3 linked regions of the Homo sapiens genome follow. The protein of the gene in region 2 binds, or shares a complex with, the protein of the main gene of each other region. Each region holds a gene or a part of one and is shown on either strand. Other genes may lie near its edges. The genes, in order: ISY1, PPIE and PRPF19.

Region 1 (3,275 bases), on a different chromosome or scaffold from region 2:
CTGCAGGCCCAAAGTGAAGAAGCCAGAAGGCTCCTGGGGTATTAGGACCCAGCTGGGGCTCTCCTTGGAGTTCTTCCATCCCCCAGTGGTACCTCAGGACCCAGGGCTGCAGACACAGGCTGGTGCTGCAAGGGCTCCTGCCCCATTCTCAGCCTTCCTTCCCTCTCCTTGTCTCATGTTGACCGGAGGGTAGGGGTCTGTCCCTGGTCTTCCTGGTAGGTTTTGTACACATATTTTGCTACTGTGTGGATCCATTTATTTTTATTGTGGAGTGTATACAACAGGTTGCGAACTGGCTGCCTGTGTCTTATTTTGACTTGCACTGCCATTTTGAGGGGAGAAGAATCAATTAGTGGCAAACATTTAAAAATGCAATTTTTTGCAGACCAAAGTATAATTTTAAAAAATGCAAATTTTCTAAAAGACACATCTCTTGAAAAATGAGATGATGTGGCCAGGCGCAGTGGCTCACGCCTGTAACCCCAGCACTTTGGGAGGCCGAGGCGGGCGGGTCACGAGGTCAAGAGATGGAGACCATCCTGGCCAACATGGTGAAACCCCATGTCTACTAAAAATACAAAAAAATTAGCTGGGCGTACTGGCATGCACCTGTAGTCCCAGCTGCTTGGGAGGCTGAGGCAGGAGAATCACTTGAACCCGAGAGGTGGAGGTTGAAGTGAGCCAAGATCGTGCCATTGCACTCCAGCCTGGCGACAGAGTGAGACTCTGTCCCAAAAAAAAAAAAAAAAAAAGATGCACGCAACCCACAAGTCAATGACCAGGTCCCTCTGTGTTGGTTGCTGCTCTGGGCTCTCCGTTAGCCCCCCTCCACCTGCTCCACTCGCTCCTGCCTGGGTGGCAGGAATTTGAGTTTGCTATTCCTGTTTTATAACCTGTTCTGCAGAAACCTATTTTTATTAAAGATTTTTATAAGAAAGGGAAACCTCCATGTCTTCAGCTTGTTCCCTGGGCCAACGGCTCTGAGGTGACAGTGGCATTAGGATGTGACCAGTCACTAAGGGGCACTGCCTTCCTGCAGGGGAGTCCCTGAAGCCCCAGCCCCAAGTGTGGCAAAGACAGGACCAGATCCCAGGAGTCTAGGTGGGAGTGAGCCGACCCACCATGGCGTCCGTGGCCACAGCTGTAGACAGGGCTCCTTGCAGTGGGCTGCACCGTGGCCTGCTGAAAGCACACAGTGGACACGAGCTGAGTCCAGAGCTTCCTCTGAACTGGGGCTTAGCTCTCCAGTGGGGAACCATGGTCAGCGGCTGTAGCCCCTGGGCAAGATGGTGCCTGGCTTCCTGCCCTCTGCAGGGTCATGGGAGTGTCTGGGAACTCAGGGTCAGGGCCAGATGGCTGTTCCTGGGGCCTGGGGCTCCAGCTCAGGCTGTTTGGGAATAGGAGGAACTCTTGGCTTGGAGAAGCCCATCACACAGCGGGAGGCCTGGGATGGTTGGTCTGCGGGGAGCAGCTCAGACTGGGGGTGGCAGAGCCGTGTGTGGCTGTGTGTGGCCAAGTCGGGAGAGTGGCCAGTGCTGGGCCCTCTCTAAGGAGCCCGAGGGCCACAAGGACTGTGGAAAAGGTCTGAGTGAGGGAGTCGGGAGCTAGTGGCTAAGGGACTTGCTTGAGGACGCTCCGTGCGGCCACAAGGAGAGGCCCAGGCAGGACCAGGTCAGGAGGAGGCTGGGGCAGAGGCCCTGGCAGGAGGTGGGTGGGCTTGGTGGGGATGGGAGTAGCCAGGGTGTAGGTGAGGATGGGGAAGGGGCCCCCCTGCCTCCTGGCTTCCCTGAGGGCTGGGCTGGCCAATCCCAGCCCTCAGTCAAGCCCGGAGGCAAATGTGTGCAGGGAGGAGAGGTGTCCAGGTTGAAGCTTTGGGAGCCCTTGGAGGCAGCAAGGCAGACTCGCCTCTGGGACCCAGCACCCAGCTTGGGCCTGCAGGTGGGGACTCAGGAGTGAATATCGTGGGGGCTTTGAGCAAGACCCTCTGGGCCCAGCCTCACCTTCCATACTTTGAAGTCAAGGAGTGGACCTGTGCTGTCTCAGTTTGCTCTGGGGTCTGGGCAGTCCTGTGGTTTGGGCAGAGGCCTCAGAGGGCCCTAGGGACAGACTGACCCAGGTCTGAGCCTCTTGGGAGCGTGCGGATGGCCGGCCTCAGACAGGCCTGGTTGTGGGTTTGTCTTCCAAGGGGCACACGCGCACTCTGGTGCTTCCTGGCATTCAGAAGAGAATGGGGAATCCAGACATCAGGCCTTCCTTCTCCCTGGGAAGGATGGCAGGTGCTTGGAGCCAGGCCTGTCTTGAGAGCCAGGGCTCTGGGTCTTCCTCCTCCAGTGCCCTGTTCCACGCCTTCAGTGCACAAAGCACTCCCCTCCTGGGATCTCTTCAGGGATCCCCGGGATGCAAACTGGCCAGGGATTAGAATTCCACATTTGAGCAAACAGACTGAGAGTGGAGAAGCACCCAGCTGGACATCCTCTAGGTGTTCCTGGCAGAGGCCCTTGCTACTTGTCTGTGCCCAAAGGCCCTAGAGGGTCCTAGATGTGGGACAAGGTCTCAGCAGGGCTCCAGTCCCAGGCCTGGAAACAGCTGGGGGTGGGGGAAGCTGGCTGGGTGGGTGTGGTTATCTTTTCCCAGCTTGTGGCTCCGAGGTGACAGAACCAATCTCAGGAGGCTTTGTTTGGTTAATAAAATCTACTGAATGGTTTATTTTAGCTTTGGCTCTGCCTGTGGTTTCCCGAAAAGCTACTTTTTCATAGTCATGTTTCCATCAACTTCCTTCTTCCCTCACACTGCCTGTCCTCCAGCGTCTAAAACACACCACCTCCCTCCTGTTTTGCTTTAAGACTGGTCACAGCATCCCCACCCAGGCCTCCTGGACCTCCTCCCGCTGCATCCCCAACTGGCTGACCCCATCTGCCCTTGGGCAGTTTATAAACAAGGAAGAAATGAAAACCTTTCTCCTCTTGCCCTGCACTTGCTCTGCAGTGCTGCGCATGCACACCCCATTCCCTGAAACACTGGCAGGATCTGGACCCTAGCTGGGGCTCCTCACCCTGCTCACTGTGCAGCACTGAAAGCAGGAACCCGCCTGGATGGACATCAGGCCTGGCCCAGCACCCAGCTGACTAGCAAGCAGAGGGATCCAGGGGGACGGGCAGCGGCACCCAGCTCCTTCTGGCATCTCACTTGCTGCCCACCTGCTCCACCAGAAAGGATGCAGAAGGCAGTGTCCGTGGAGGGCTGGCCTGGCACTCTGAATCCTGCTTCTCTGCCGC
Region 2 (7,126 bases):
GGTGGAAGCTGCTTCCCTTAAAGCCAAAGCCCTTTTCATGAGTGCACAGGCAGCGGAAATTCTCTGGAATTGAGAAAGGAAAAAGCGCTGGGGTTAAAAAATAGGACAAAATAAAAAACCTCGAAAAAACTTTGGTTTAGTGTTCATATTTTTGTTTTAAAATAAGAGATACTCATTATAAACCTTTGTGATACTAACCTTGTAAGGACTATAAGGGATTCTTTTTCCTTGAGACGGAGTTTCACTCTTGTTGCCCATGCTGCAGTGCAATGGCACAATCTCAGTTCACTGCAACTTCCACCTCTTGGGTTCAAGTCATTCCCCTGCCTCAGCCTCTTGAGTAGCTGGGACTACAGGCATGTACCATACACCTGGCTAATTTTGTATTTTTAGTAGAGATGGGGTTTCACTATGTTGGCCAAGCTGGTCTAGAACTCCTACCTCAGATGATCCGCCCACCTTGGCCTCCCAAAGTGCTGGGATTACAGGTGTAAACCACCACACCTGGCCAGGACTATAGGAGATTCTGTTGAAGGGGGATTGAATATACATGTTCGAGCTCTGTTCCCTTTTAAAACCACACTAAATTGGTAGGAAACTGATTTTTTAAAAGAAAAACCAAAGGATCTTAGAAGAAAACATAGGGGCAAATCTTCATGACTCTGGATTTGGTGATGGTTTCTTAAATGTCACACCAAAAGCAGAGGTGAAAGAAAAAAATAATTAGATTTTATCAAAATTTAAGACGTGCATCAAAGAACCGTACCAATAGAGGGCAAAGCAACCCACAGAACAGGAGAATGCTTATTTGCAAATCATATTTAACATGGGTTTAATATCCAGAATATATAATGAACTCCTATAATTCAACAACAAAATGGCCAGGCACGGTGTAATCCCAGTGCTTTGGGAGGTCAAGGCAGGAGGATCACTGGAGGTCAAGGGTTCAAAGCTACAGTAAGCCATGTTCTCACCACTGCACTCCAGCCTGGGAGTCAGAGCAAGACCCTGTCTCTTAAAAAAAACAAAACAAACAATCCAGTTAATAAATAAGCCAAAGATTTGAAAAGATGTTTCTCCAAAGAAGATATACAAATGGTCAACAAGCACATGAAAAGATGTTCAACATCATTAGTCAGTAGGGAATAAAAATAAAAACCACAATGAGATGCCATGTCACACCTGTTAAGAGAAGATGTGGGCCAGGCATGGTGGCTCACGCCTGTAATCCCAGCACTATGGGAGGCCGAGGCAGGCGAATCATGAGGTCAGGAGTTTGAGACCAGCCTGGCCAACCAACATGGTGAAACCTCGTCTCTACTAAAAATACAAAAAATTGGCTGGGCATGGTGGCAGACGCCTGTAATCCCAGCTACTCGGGAGGCTGAGGCACAAGAATCACTTGAACCTGGGAGGCGGAGGTTGCAGTGAGCCAATATCACGCCACTGTACTCCAGCCCGGGCAACAGTGCGAGACTCTGTCTCAAAAAAAAAAAAAAAAAAAAAAAAAGAGAAGATGTGGAAAAACTGAAACACTCATACATTGCTGGTAGAAATGTAAAATGGTCCAGCCACTGTGGAAAATAGTTTGGCATTTCCTCAAAAAGTTAAATACAGAGTTACCATATGACTAAGCATTTCCATTCCTAGGCATATATATCCAAAAGAATTGAAAACAGGAATTTAAACATATACTTACATGTGGATATTCACACAGGCATTTACAATAGTCAAAAGGTGAAAACAATGTGCAAGTGCCCATCAACAAATGAATGAACAAGATATTTATCCAAATACAACGGAATATTATTCAGCCACAAAAAGGAATGAGGCACTGATACATGGTACAAGGATGAACCTTGAAAGCATTATGCTATGCAAAATCAACAAGGCGTGGAAAAGGACAGCTATTGTATGATTCCACTTACATGAAAAATCTAGGATAGGCCAATTCATAGACACAAAGATTAGAGGTTATCAGAAGCTAAGGGGAGGAGAAAATGGGGAGTTATTATTTAATAGGTACCTTTAATAAGTGGTTTTGTTTAGGATGATTCAAAAATTTCGAACAGAGTAATTACTGCTAACAAACACTTTAAAGTGGCTAAAATAGCCAAAAAATAAACTTAAAAAGCAGGGAGGAAGAGACAACAGCAACAAAATTTCTGAAGTTAGAAAACAAAATAGATGAGTCCTAAATGATATAGCAGACCCGAGAAAGCTGAATCTTAAGCTGGTAAAAGCCAAGAAGCAACTCAATTTGCACTCCAAAAGCTCAGAGGAAAGGGTGCAGGTAATCCTGGAGACAGTAAGTTTGGCTGAAAGCCCATTTAAGAAAGTGGTTAATCTTTGGGATCCTTTCCCTGACTCTGCAGCTGGGGGCCACCCCTCCCCAACCTGGTAGCCAGCTGGGGGTCTAGTCTTTGGTAGGTTAAAGCAGAGGGTCTCTGGACTAGGACATCCTACGCATAGTGAGGGCTGAGGTACCATAATGACAAATGGAGATTATGTGAAAGTTTATATACTGAATGTTGAGGAATTCAGCCTTGCCCTCATCTCCCCTTAACAAGATGCAGACACCTGGATGCAAAACCCCCAGCAGGATGGTCTGGGAGAAAATCAGGAATGATTACACAGAAAACTATGCAAAAACAAGGCAATTATCAATTCCAGGCAAAACAAAATGCTGTGCATGAAAGGAGGTTATCACATGATGCTTACATTGTTAAAATAACTTAGGACCTAACCAAAATTATGGTACCTATACAGGGAAGATGAGGGGGCAGGGAAGGGGATTTTAAAAAACTAATTCTTTGTTCTCTGAAGTAGAAAATCAGAAGATAATGTTTAAAATGGAAAACAGGAAGTAGAAATATAAAACTGTTATCAACATGGAAATAAAAACCAAAACACCTAAGAGTTGAAATCCGCTCCTCTGAGGAGCAGCAAATGGTGTTGGCAGCAGGGCACAGGGACAGCACCAGGGGACGACTGTTTTTTCAAAACAAGCTTTGTGAAACTGAATTGACTCTTTATATGTCTAGATAATAAAATTTAGATTAAAAAGAGAATAGAAGTCAATATTTAATAAATTACAAAGAATACTCAATAAAAGCACTAGTTACTTCTAGAATTGAGGACTGGATGTAGAGAGGGGAAAATGAATTTTCAATTTATTGTCTTAAATATTATTGGAATATATGTATATGCTATTCTTTAAAAAAAAGAATACATTATTTACTTGTATTTTTAAAAAACGATTAAAAAACAGTAAGCCAGCACTTATAAAGCTTCAAAAACACCTGCTCTGACTTATCTGTTACTAGATCCCAGGATCTGAGATGCCTCAAATCAACTTAGGTCAGAAGCAATATCAAGGACACAAGAAGTGAAGCAGTAAGAACCTGGGAAAGGCTCACTGCTCAGCCACCAGCGTCCCGCCGTTCTGACCACAGCGTCCTGCTCACCTGCTGTCATGGGCACGACATCAGAACGCAGGAGCATCTGGATGCGGCCAGCCGGCTTGTTCCCAATCTTGATGTCCATGTACACCTGAGGATTTGAGCGGGCCTTTTTAGCAATGGGCTCTCCCTAGGTGCAGAAGAAATTGCTAGTTAGAGAGAGCTCCCTGACGCCCTAAGTAGGAGTGCGAGTATTCTACACACCCACCCAGAACACAACTCCAGTGCGTAGGCTGGAGCAAGTGCTGACGGGGAAGGCCTTGGGCCCTGATAGGGCTGCAGGAGGCAGGAGCCATGGCCGTAGCACCCAGCTGGATGCCCAGCGACAGGAGGTCTCAGCACTGGCTAACCTGAGCCTCACACACGGGGGTGTTATCTCATCATGCTTGCCCTCAGATGCATCTGCTTCCTCCTCTTGCTTCACAGTCACAGAACAGCACTTTTCTGGTCCATGATCCACAACTCTCAGTATCTTCAAATGCCAGTTCCAGCCCACCCACTGTCCTCTAGTTAGGCAGACCCATCCATGTACCACCTCGTCCCTCTGTGCCTGGCCCTGCATATACACTGGCTAACTACATGGAAGCAAGGGGGCAGCCCTCTTGCTCAGGCCTAAGTGCTCAGAAGACAGTGGAAGATGTTGGGCCTTGCATTGTGCTCCAAGTAGGTAAGACTAAGCAGAGGATACAGGATGATCCAGGGGGACTCCACTGACTGTGATGGCCACTTTATGAGTTCTGATTTGCATTCAAATTTCTGGCGTGGGTCAATGTGTGGATGAATGGTGGCAAATTAGCCAAGATTGAGAACACAGGAAGACAGGATTAGAGAAGCGGGAGAATCCATTTTAGGCAAACTTAAGCTGCCCATGAGACTTGCAGGCAGAAATATCTGAAGCTCAGGACTAGAAAGAGACCATGAAGATCAACAGCATAACAGAGGCTGCATAAAACTAGAGATAGACTGCTACTGTTTCAGCTGAGAGAAGAGAGAGAAACCATGAGCCAAGAAAGAAATACAGAAGAATGACAACATTCACAAAGTACTCAGAGGAGGGGACGCCCAGGAAGCAACTGTCAGAGACTATGCTGAGAATCAGGGGGAAGTGCCCCAGCAGGTTCCCGTAGGACTGGAGAACCCTGAACCCATGTACAGGTTGAAGGAAGGGACACTACCCTATTCTGTCTCCCCTCCATTAGCACAGGAATAGGAAGACCACGACCCTTGTGGCAAACTCTTCAGTGAAGGAGGGGGACTGATCAGGAGGGGTGAAGAGGGGCACCTCAGCTTCCTCCCTGTCAGTTGATAATCACAAATCCATACCTGAGCAGAGCTGAGACACTCATCACATAGAACACAACATGGACAAGAGACCCAAAGTTTCGCCCTTGAATTCACTCGATATTGACTTTACCAAAGTACTAAGAACTCAATATTGACTTTACCAAAGTACTAAGAATTCATTATTCATTCCCTCCACTTTGATATACATATTGGCAAATTTCCATTAAAACTTAAAAAAAAAAGTCTCCTGTGGACAGCGCCGGCCTGTGCTCTGGAAGCAGGAGCTTCATTCTCACCTCCTGGGTCTCTGCTTTGGGAGGCTCTGACCCTTCTTCCTCTTTATTCTCTTCAAGCGTCTTCCCAGAAAACTTCTTCAACCAGTCATCATCTGACCAAACTGAAAGGAAAGAATCAAACAAATGTTCATTCAAGCTGTCAGCTTGAACTGAAAAGTAGCTGCTTTGGTCAGCAAAGTGGAAGATGCTATGTGGCCTGTATGCCAGACAATTCCCCACTGAGAACTCCCAGGGGTAAGGAAAGTTCCCATCCAGAATGTAGGCCCTGAAGTCCAGCTCTCAGTAGGGCTAAGGAAAATAGCTATGCCGAAAGCAAAGGTGTAGCCTTTGCTGATTTCAGCCCTTGATGGAGACCCCAGGAATGGAATATCAAGAAAACTGGGAAAGATGAGCTCAGGCAGGAATTTCTCTCATAACAGAAACAATCACTTTGGCTTTGCTGAGAAGCTCAAACTCACTTGTTTCTCTAAAAAGGTGGTGCATGCCCTTCCCAATGTGAACCATCATCTACTCCTATCTACCAGGAAGCAGCATTTAGCATCTACTTCCAAGTAAATAGAGACAAAAAATGCAACTAAGGCCAAACTGCAGAACATCACAGGGAATCTGGAAGTTGCTCCTACTCACCTGGCCTGGAAGAGCCTTCCTTAATTCTCATTGGTTTGGCCAAATTGACACGAATTGTACGTCCAAAAAGCTCAGATTCATTCTGAAAAGATTGAAAATCCAGCTGCTTAAACTCTCTTAGGTTAAAAGAGGGCCAGCCAGCTTTCCATATACTTCTGAGACACACTCATGATTTGTCCTCCCTTAATCCCTGGGCCTCTACCAGTAAGCTATGCAGCCACCCCAAAGCCACCTGTGGGTTTCAGGGAACTCACACCCCTTTCTTTCATAGCAGCACACAAAGACCTGTATTACCAAAAGTAACTCTGGGTTCAGAACACTCCAAAATTACAAAAATAAATGCAGTTTCCCAGTATTTGAGTTCACCTTCAAAAGTCAAGATAAGCTTTGAAATGAAAGAAAAATGATCTCTGACAGCTGATGAATATGTTTGGTGAATGGATAACAGAACAACAAATAAAACAACATCTCATTATCCAAAGATAATCGGTACCAGGAAAGGTCATTTAAGGTGACTCCACTTGAAGTGGTGATGAAGATTTCGTGGTAAAATTGAAAAATTTTAAAAGGCTGACTGGGAAATTACTGTGATGAAACTAAAAATAATAAAAACAAGTTTCTTACCATTAATATTCAGGACTAACTATGCACTAATCGGTAGAAAGAAATGTAACTTGGTAGAAAGAAATGTAACAGGTAGCCCAGGTAGCCCTGTTGGCTTGAGCCTGTAATTCCAGCTACTTGAGAAGCTGAGAAGTCTTGAACTCATGAGTTCAAGATTGTTAAAAAAAAAAAAAAAAAAAAAAAGAAAGAAAGAAAAGTAACAGGCACTGAAGTATTATTTTTCCAACAAAATTCTATCAACAGTATGGTATCTTTGCACTTCTTATCAGACATGAAAACTAAAAGGATCTCAAGGAAGGCACAAATACTAAAGAGCATCATCATTTTTCCCAAGGACCTTTCCAGAATATCCAAATCATTTGTATCAGTGATTTGCACCTGCCATAATTAAATTTCTCTTCTCAATTGTAAATTGGTCTAACACTTCATGAAATCCTGCTATTTTGCAAAATATGCAGTTACACCGTGCAATCAATTTGCACTGTGTCTGCAAATTATCCTAAACATGGGAGAGCCAGTGAGAGACTGGTCAACAAGGATGATGAGGACTTACATTATTCTGAAATGGCGAAGGAGTCTGAGTAAGAACTAATTTTATAAGTGATCAATTCACAGTGAATATTTTCATGTGAGAATTTTTACCTCCCCATGCAACCTTGTAACTTTGGAAGTCCAGAACACTGATATATGAATAAGGAGCCTCTGTACCACCAAAAAGCAACTTTAGTTAGAATTAAGATTCCCAGCCATACCATGTTGTCGATAGCTGCTGCAGCATCCTGCCAAGGAAAGACAAAGGTACAAGTTTAGGCTTGCAGCCAAATGCTTCTTATG
Region 3 (6,665 bases), on a different chromosome or scaffold from region 2:
CCCCCGACTTTGCCACCATGACCTCCTTCCTGTTCCTCCATATATCTCGCTCAGTCCAGCCCTAGAACCTGCTCTCTGCCTGCCAACACTCCTCCCCTCTCAGGTCCCTCTCATTCCAGCTTCAGCTTCATCACCACCACTTCAGAGGCCTTTCCTGACCTGCAATCTAAAGCAGTCACGTGACCCTACAGGAATTCCCTATAAGGCACATTCATTATCAGATCTTTGTCCCGAAACCAGTCCTACCACAGCTTTTCAATCGCCAGAGTCAATAAAAAAATCTCCTTTTTGACTTATGCCAGCTGAGGACAGGCTAGAAAGCCTACAACTAAAGAACCCTGATGGAGATGCTCAGACCTCCCCACCAGCAAGATCCAGCTAATCTTCCCTGCAGGTCTCCCTCCCTTCCAGGCTTGTGTAGGAAACCAAGTCTACAAGGCAAGTGGCAGGACTAGTGACTTGAGGCCTTTAGACACAAGGTCAAGAACCGCAGGGACATGGCAAATTTCATCTGCAGATTTGTTTTTATTTCTGCTGTGCAATTAAAAAAAAAAAAAAAGGGTAAGAGCTGTGAAAGGAAAGGAAGATGGGCTTCCCGGAAGCCAGTGTCCCAGTGTGTGCTCCCTCCCCTTGACCTTCCCAGTCCCAGGTGCTCCTGGTGCAGACAGACACGGGGAGGTGGTTATGGTTATTGTTTTCTTTTTTTAATGAAACTAGATCACTGCTTACAAAACCCTGCACAAGCCCTCCTGCCCATCCCCTTCACAGTTCCCTTGGCTCAGCCTCTCCTGTCTCACAGGAACTGCAACAAAATGGGTGTGGAACAGCCACCACCACGTCCATTGAACGACAGGAAGGGAGAGGCCCTGGGCTCCGACCCTGGGCCTTAAGAGGGTGACAGTTCTTCCTTCCACATCCGTTCCCATGGGGCCTGGAGTTGCATGGATGAGGGTGGTCCATGCCACCATGGTTCTCAGGCCACCACTCAGACCAGAGTGAAATGATGTGAATGTCCCACCCCACAGAGCCCCCTCCCCCCATAGATTCCCCCCACCCCCCCCCCCAAACCCTAATTCTACCCCTCTACTGAGATGAGGCCCAGCTTCCATCAGAAGGGCCAGGGCCTACAGGCTGTAGAACTTGAGGCTTCTGTCCATGCCTGTTGAAGCGATGAACTTGGCGTGATGCCCGAAGGCCACCCCTGTGGTCAGGCCGCTATGCTCTGAGGAGAAAGATAAGAGGCAACTGTGAGAAGGCTTTTCCTCCTTTAGTCTGAACACTGATCCCTAATAACAGATTCCCAAACAACCAGGCCTTCTCTAATTAGTATTTATCACACCGCAGGCTCCTGTTTGTTTTCCCTAGGCTGACCTGCACACTACCCCCAGTGCCTCCCTCAGTGCCTGGCATTTTTCACTGGTGGGATGAATGAATAAAGCAATGCCAGCCCCCCCTTCTCACCTGAGCTTTCTGGGCAACTGCAGTTCGGCTAGGTTTAGTTGAAAAACCTCAGAGCTCAGCTTGTTTATGCCTAGTGCTCACTACTTGCTCGTAAGTGGAACAGTCCATCAGCATTTTCTAGCTCATAGTGTTCCAACCCCAGGGCACTCAGGCCCCTAACACAGAGCAGGACCAGATAAGAGGCAGATGAGGCTGGGCAACATTCCTCATGGGACTCCAGAAATTCATGAACATCTGGCCAAATTCCTTCTAGATTTAGGATCACACCTGGAGTCAACCAACTCCCCATTAAAAAGCTCACGCTGTATTTTCAGCTACCTAACTCGGTTCTAAATCAAAACACCAGGTACAGTACAGGGTGAAAACCGGTGAGCCATATTGTTAGGATGGACACCTTTGTTATACAAACACACTGAGCAGGGCTCAGGAGAATACGGGGCAAGAAGAAATATCTTGTATCCTGCTCACAACCTGCTAATGAGGACGAGAATTTCATCAACACACACAGCAGTAGCTCCCATTCATGTAGCATCTTAAGTGAGCATCAGGCACCCTGTTACCAGCATATTAGCATGCCATCTCCACAACACCAGCTGTCACACCCTGCAAAGCTGTGCCAATATTCCCATTTTCTAGATGAAGGAGTTCAAGATCTGAAAGGGAAAGTCACGTACCCAGGGCCACATAACTGTTAGGTTAGAAACCCTGTTACCCATTCTCTCAGCATCTCATGCTTTTCTTCTCTAGCACTTATAATTGCAATTAAATGTGTACATGTGAAATTAATCTACATCTGCCTTACTAACCTGACTATAAATTACATCAGTGCCCAAATCGGGTCTGTTTTATTCACTGCTCTATCCCACCACAGACTAAGACCCAATGCTGAGTGAGAACAACTGCAAATCCTGACTACGTGCCAGACACCGTTCTGACCTATGTATTCACAGACGGTCCCCGATTTACCATGGTTCAACTTGCAATATTTTCAGCTTATGATGCACTTATCAGGATGTGGCTCCATCGTATATCAAGGAGCACCTGTATGTATTTTCATCTAAACCTCAACAACCCCACTGAGTCTATAGTTACCATTCCCACTTTTCTGAGAGGTTAAGTAATATTGGATCTCAGAAAACAATACCCCAAAGTATGGTGGTTTGGCACGCTGAGGGCTTTGAACCAAGGTCTCTCTGACCATGTCCTGCCCTCCTGTCTCTTGCCCCTCTTTCTCTAAGGGCAGGTCATCTGAAAGGAACATCATGAATCCCCTTCCTGGGAATCTCAACCAGGGAAAATGAACTGGTCTCACAAGAGAGAAGACTAGATGCCAGTCTTTGTCACAGACTGTCATGCATTATTTATCTAAGGTCTGCTCTGAGACAACTTTTATTACCTGAGAGACTCTGTAGTGCACTTCCTCCCCATCCCCCCACATAACTTGTGTCACCACCACCCCCTAGAAGCCTTAGGCCCCTACTCCCTTCTGCAGTTCAGGATGCCATAGAGTCATGTGTCACATAATGACATGTCAGCGACGGACCACACAAACACTGGTCCCATAAGATTACAGTGGAGCTGAAAAATTCCTATCACCAAGTGATGTCATAACCATCATCATGTCACAATGCAATGCATTATTCACGTTTGTGGGGATACAGGTATAAACAAATCTACTACACTGCCAGTTGTATAAAAGTATAATATAGCTAGGCGCGGTGGCTCACGCCTGTAATCCCAGCACTTTGGGAGGCCGAGGTGGGCAGATCACGAGGTCAGGAGTTTGAGATCAGCCTGGCCAACATAGTGAAACCTCATCTCTACTACAAATACAAGTACAAAAAAAAAAAAATTAGCCAGATGTGGTGGCACACGCCTGAAGTCCCAGCTACTCGGGAGGCTGAGGCAGGAGAATCACTTGAACCCAGGAGGCGGAGGTTGCAGTGAGCCAAGACCATGCCATTGCACTCCAGCCTGGGTGACAGAGCAAGACTCAATCTCAAAAAAAAAAAAAGTATAACATAATTAGGTACAGTACGTTACTGGTTTATGTACAGACATATCTCAGGGACATCGCTGGTTCAGCTCCAGGCTACCAATAAAGCAAATATTGCAATAAGGCAAGGCACACAAATTTTTTTGGTTTCTCACTACATATAAAAGTTATGTTGGCCAGGCATGGTGGTTCATGCCTGTAATCCCAGCACTTTGGGAGGCCGAGGCAGGTGGATCGCTTGAGTTCAGGAATTCAAGACCAGCCTGGCCAACATGGGGAAACCCCGTCTCTACTAAAAATACAAAAATTAGCCGGGTGTGATGGTGCCCACCTGTGCTAGAACCTGGGAGGTGGAGGTTGCATTGAGCCAAGATCGTGCCACTGCACTCCAGCCTAGGCGACAGAGCAAGACTCCATCTCAAAAAAAAATGTTATGTTTACACTATACTGTAGTCTATTAAGTGTGTAATAACATTATGTCTAGTAAACAATGTACATACCTTAATCAAAAATACTTTATTGCTAAAACATGCTAACAACCATCAGACACTTCAGTGAGTTGTCATCTTTTTCCAAGACCCACCAGCAGGGTCTTGCCTTGATGTCGATGGCTGCTAACTGACAAGGGTGGTGTTTGCTGAAGGCTGAAGTGGCTGTGACAATTTCTTAAAATAAGACAACAAAGAAGTTTGCCACATCATTTGATTCTTCCTTTGACAAAAGATTTCTCTGTGATGGATGCTGTTTGATAGCATTTTACCCACAGTAGAACTTTCAGAACTGGAATCAATCCTCTCAAATTCTGCACCTGCTTTATCAATTAAGTTTATGTAATATTCTAAATCCTTCATTATCATTTCAACAATGTTCACGGCATCTTCACCAGTAGAAGATTCCATCAAGAAACCACTTTCTTTGGTCATCCCTAAGAGCTCCTCATCCATTAAAGTTTTAACATGAGATTGCAGCAATTCAGTCCCATCTTTAGACTCCCCTTTGGATTCTAATTCTCTTACCATTTCCTCCACATCTGCAGTTACTCCCTCCATGGAAGTCCTCAATCCCTCAAAGTCATCCATGAGGGCTGAAGGGTTGGAATCAATTTCTTCCAAACTCCTCTTTATGTTCATAGTTTAACCTCCTCCCATGAATCACAAATGTTCTTAAGGGCGTGTAGAATGGTGAATCCTTTCCAGGTTTTCAATTTACTTTGTCCAGATCCATCAAAGGAACCACTATCCAGGGCAGCTATAGCTTTATAAAATGTATTTCTTAAGTAATAAGACTTGAAAGTCAAAATTACTCCTTGATCCATAAGCCGAAGATTGGATGTTGCAGGCATGAAACATCTCCATCTGAGCTTTAGGGTAATGAGGTGCACTGTAATATTTTGAAAGGAATCTATTTTTCTGAACAGTACCTCTTAATGGGGGGCTTAAAAAATATTCAGTAAACCATGCTGTAAACAGATGTGTTGTCATCCAGACTTTGTTGTTCTATTTACAGAGCACAGGCAGAGTAGATTTAGCCCCACCTTCTTAAGGGCCCTACAATTTTCAGAATGCTAAATGAGCTTTGGCTTCAATGTAAAATCACCAGCTGCATTAGTCCCTAACAAGGGAATCACTCTGATCTTTGCATCTTGGAAACCAGGCATTGACTTCTCTCTAGCTGTGCAAGTTCCAGATGTCACTTTCTTCCAATAGAAGGCTATTCCGTCTACATTGAAAATCTGTTGTTGAGTGTACCCACCGTCAATGATCTTAGCTAGGTCTTCCGGATAACTTGCTGCAGCTTCTACAACAGCATCTGCTGCTTCACCTTGTACTTTTCTGTTATGGAGATGGCTTCTTTCCTTAAACCTCATGAACCAACCTCTGCTAGCTTCAAACTTTTCTTTTGTAGCTTCCTCACCTGTCTCAGCCTTCACAGAATTCAAGAGTTAGGATCTTGGTCTGGATTATGGTTTGGCTTAAAAGAATGTTGTGGCTGGTTTGATATTCTATCCAGACCACTGAAACTTTCTCCATATCAGCAATAAGGATGTTCTGCTTTCTTATCATTTGTGCGTTCACTGGAGTAGCACTTTTAATTTCCTTCAAGAATTTTCCTTTGCTTTCATAACTTGACTAATATTTGGTGTTGAGGCCTAGCTTTTGGCCTATTTGGCTTTTCACATGCCTTCTTCACTAAGCTCAATCATTTCTAGCTTTGGATTTTAAGTAACAGACATGGGACACTTTCTTTCACTTGGACACCGAGAGGCCATAATACGGTTATTAACTGGCCTAGTTTCAATATTGTTGTGTCTAAGGAAATAGGGAAGTCTGAGAGGGAGAGAGATGGGGAACGGCTGGTGGGTGGAGTGGTCAGAACACACACAGCATTTCATTTATCAAATAAATTCAGTAACTTTTATGGGCACATTTCATGGTGCCCCCCCGCCCAACAATTACAATAGCAACATCAAAGATCACTAACGGACACAATAAATCATGAAGAAGTTTGAAATACTGTAAGAATTACCAAAATTTGACACACAGACACAAAGTGAACACATGTTGTTGGAAAAATGGTACTGACAGACTTGCTTGGGGCAAGGTTGCCAAAAACCTTCAATTTATAAAAAGCAAAGTATCCATAAAATACAATAAAGCTAAGTGCAATAAGACAAGGTATGCCTATACTATACTTTTTTTGGTATTAAATATACTCTTCCCACTTATAAAAAAAAGTTAACTGTAAAACAGCACCAAGCAGGCCCTTTCAGGAGGTATCCGAGAAGAAGGCATTATCATCATAGGAGATGACAGGTTTATGCATGTTGGTGCCCCCGAAGACCTTCCGGTGGGAAAAGATGTGGAGGTAGAAGACAGTGATGTTGGTGCTATGGTTAGGCTTTGTGCCGCCACCCAAATCTCATCTTGAATTGTAGTGCCCATAATCCCCACGTGTTGTGGGAGGGAGCCAGTGGGAAGTAACTGAATCATGGGGGTGGTTACCCCCATGCTGTTCTCATGATAGTGAGTTCTCACGAGATCTGATGGTTTTATGAGGGGCTTTAGCCCCTTTGCTCAGCATTTGTCTCTCCTGTTGCCATGTAAAGAAAGACATGTTTGCTTTCCCTGCTGCTATGACTGTAAGTTTCCTGAGGCCTCCCGAGTCACTGTGAGTCAATTAAACCTCTTTCCCTTATCAATTACCCAGG

The links.
Region 1: PPIE (region 2) and ISY1 share a complex: the UniProt entries of both Homo sapiens proteins name them as parts of the XAB2 complex.
Region 3: PPIE (region 2) and PRPF19 share a complex: the UniProt entries of both Homo sapiens proteins name them as parts of the XAB2 complex.

Annotation. Positions count from the first base shown.
Region 1 is NC_000003.12:129,126,851-129,130,125, reverse strand, and holds the end of ISY1 (pre-mRNA-splicing factor ISY1 homolog), read left to right. Parts: coding exon 1-45; 3' UTR 46-2,711; downstream 2,712-3,275. Other genes in the region: ISY1-RAB43 protein, read left to right, coding at 1-38. UniProt on the Homo sapiens protein: Component of the spliceosome C complex required for the selective processing of microRNAs during embryonic stem cell differentiation. Required for the biogenesis of all miRNAs from the pri-miR-17-92 primary transcript except miR-92a.
Region 2 is NC_000001.11:39,741,840-39,748,965, reverse strand, and holds part of PPIE (peptidyl-prolyl cis-trans isomerase E), read right to left. Parts: intron 7,072-7,126; coding exon 7,045-7,071; intron 7,039-7,044; exon of another isoform or gene 6,935-7,038; intron 5,751-6,934; coding exon 5,669-5,750; intron 5,143-5,668; coding exon 5,042-5,142; intron 3,592-5,041; coding exon 3,468-3,591; intron 64-3,467; coding exon 1-63. UniProt on the Homo sapiens protein: Involved in pre-mRNA splicing as component of the spliceosome. Combines RNA-binding and PPIase activities.
Region 3 is NC_000011.10:60,890,042-60,896,706, forward strand, and holds the end of PRPF19 (pre-mRNA-processing factor 19), read right to left. Parts: intron 1,223-6,665; coding exon 1,125-1,222; 3' UTR 506-1,124; downstream 1-505. UniProt on the Homo sapiens protein: Ubiquitin-protein ligase which is a core component of several complexes mainly involved pre-mRNA splicing and DNA repair. Required for pre-mRNA splicing as component of the spliceosome.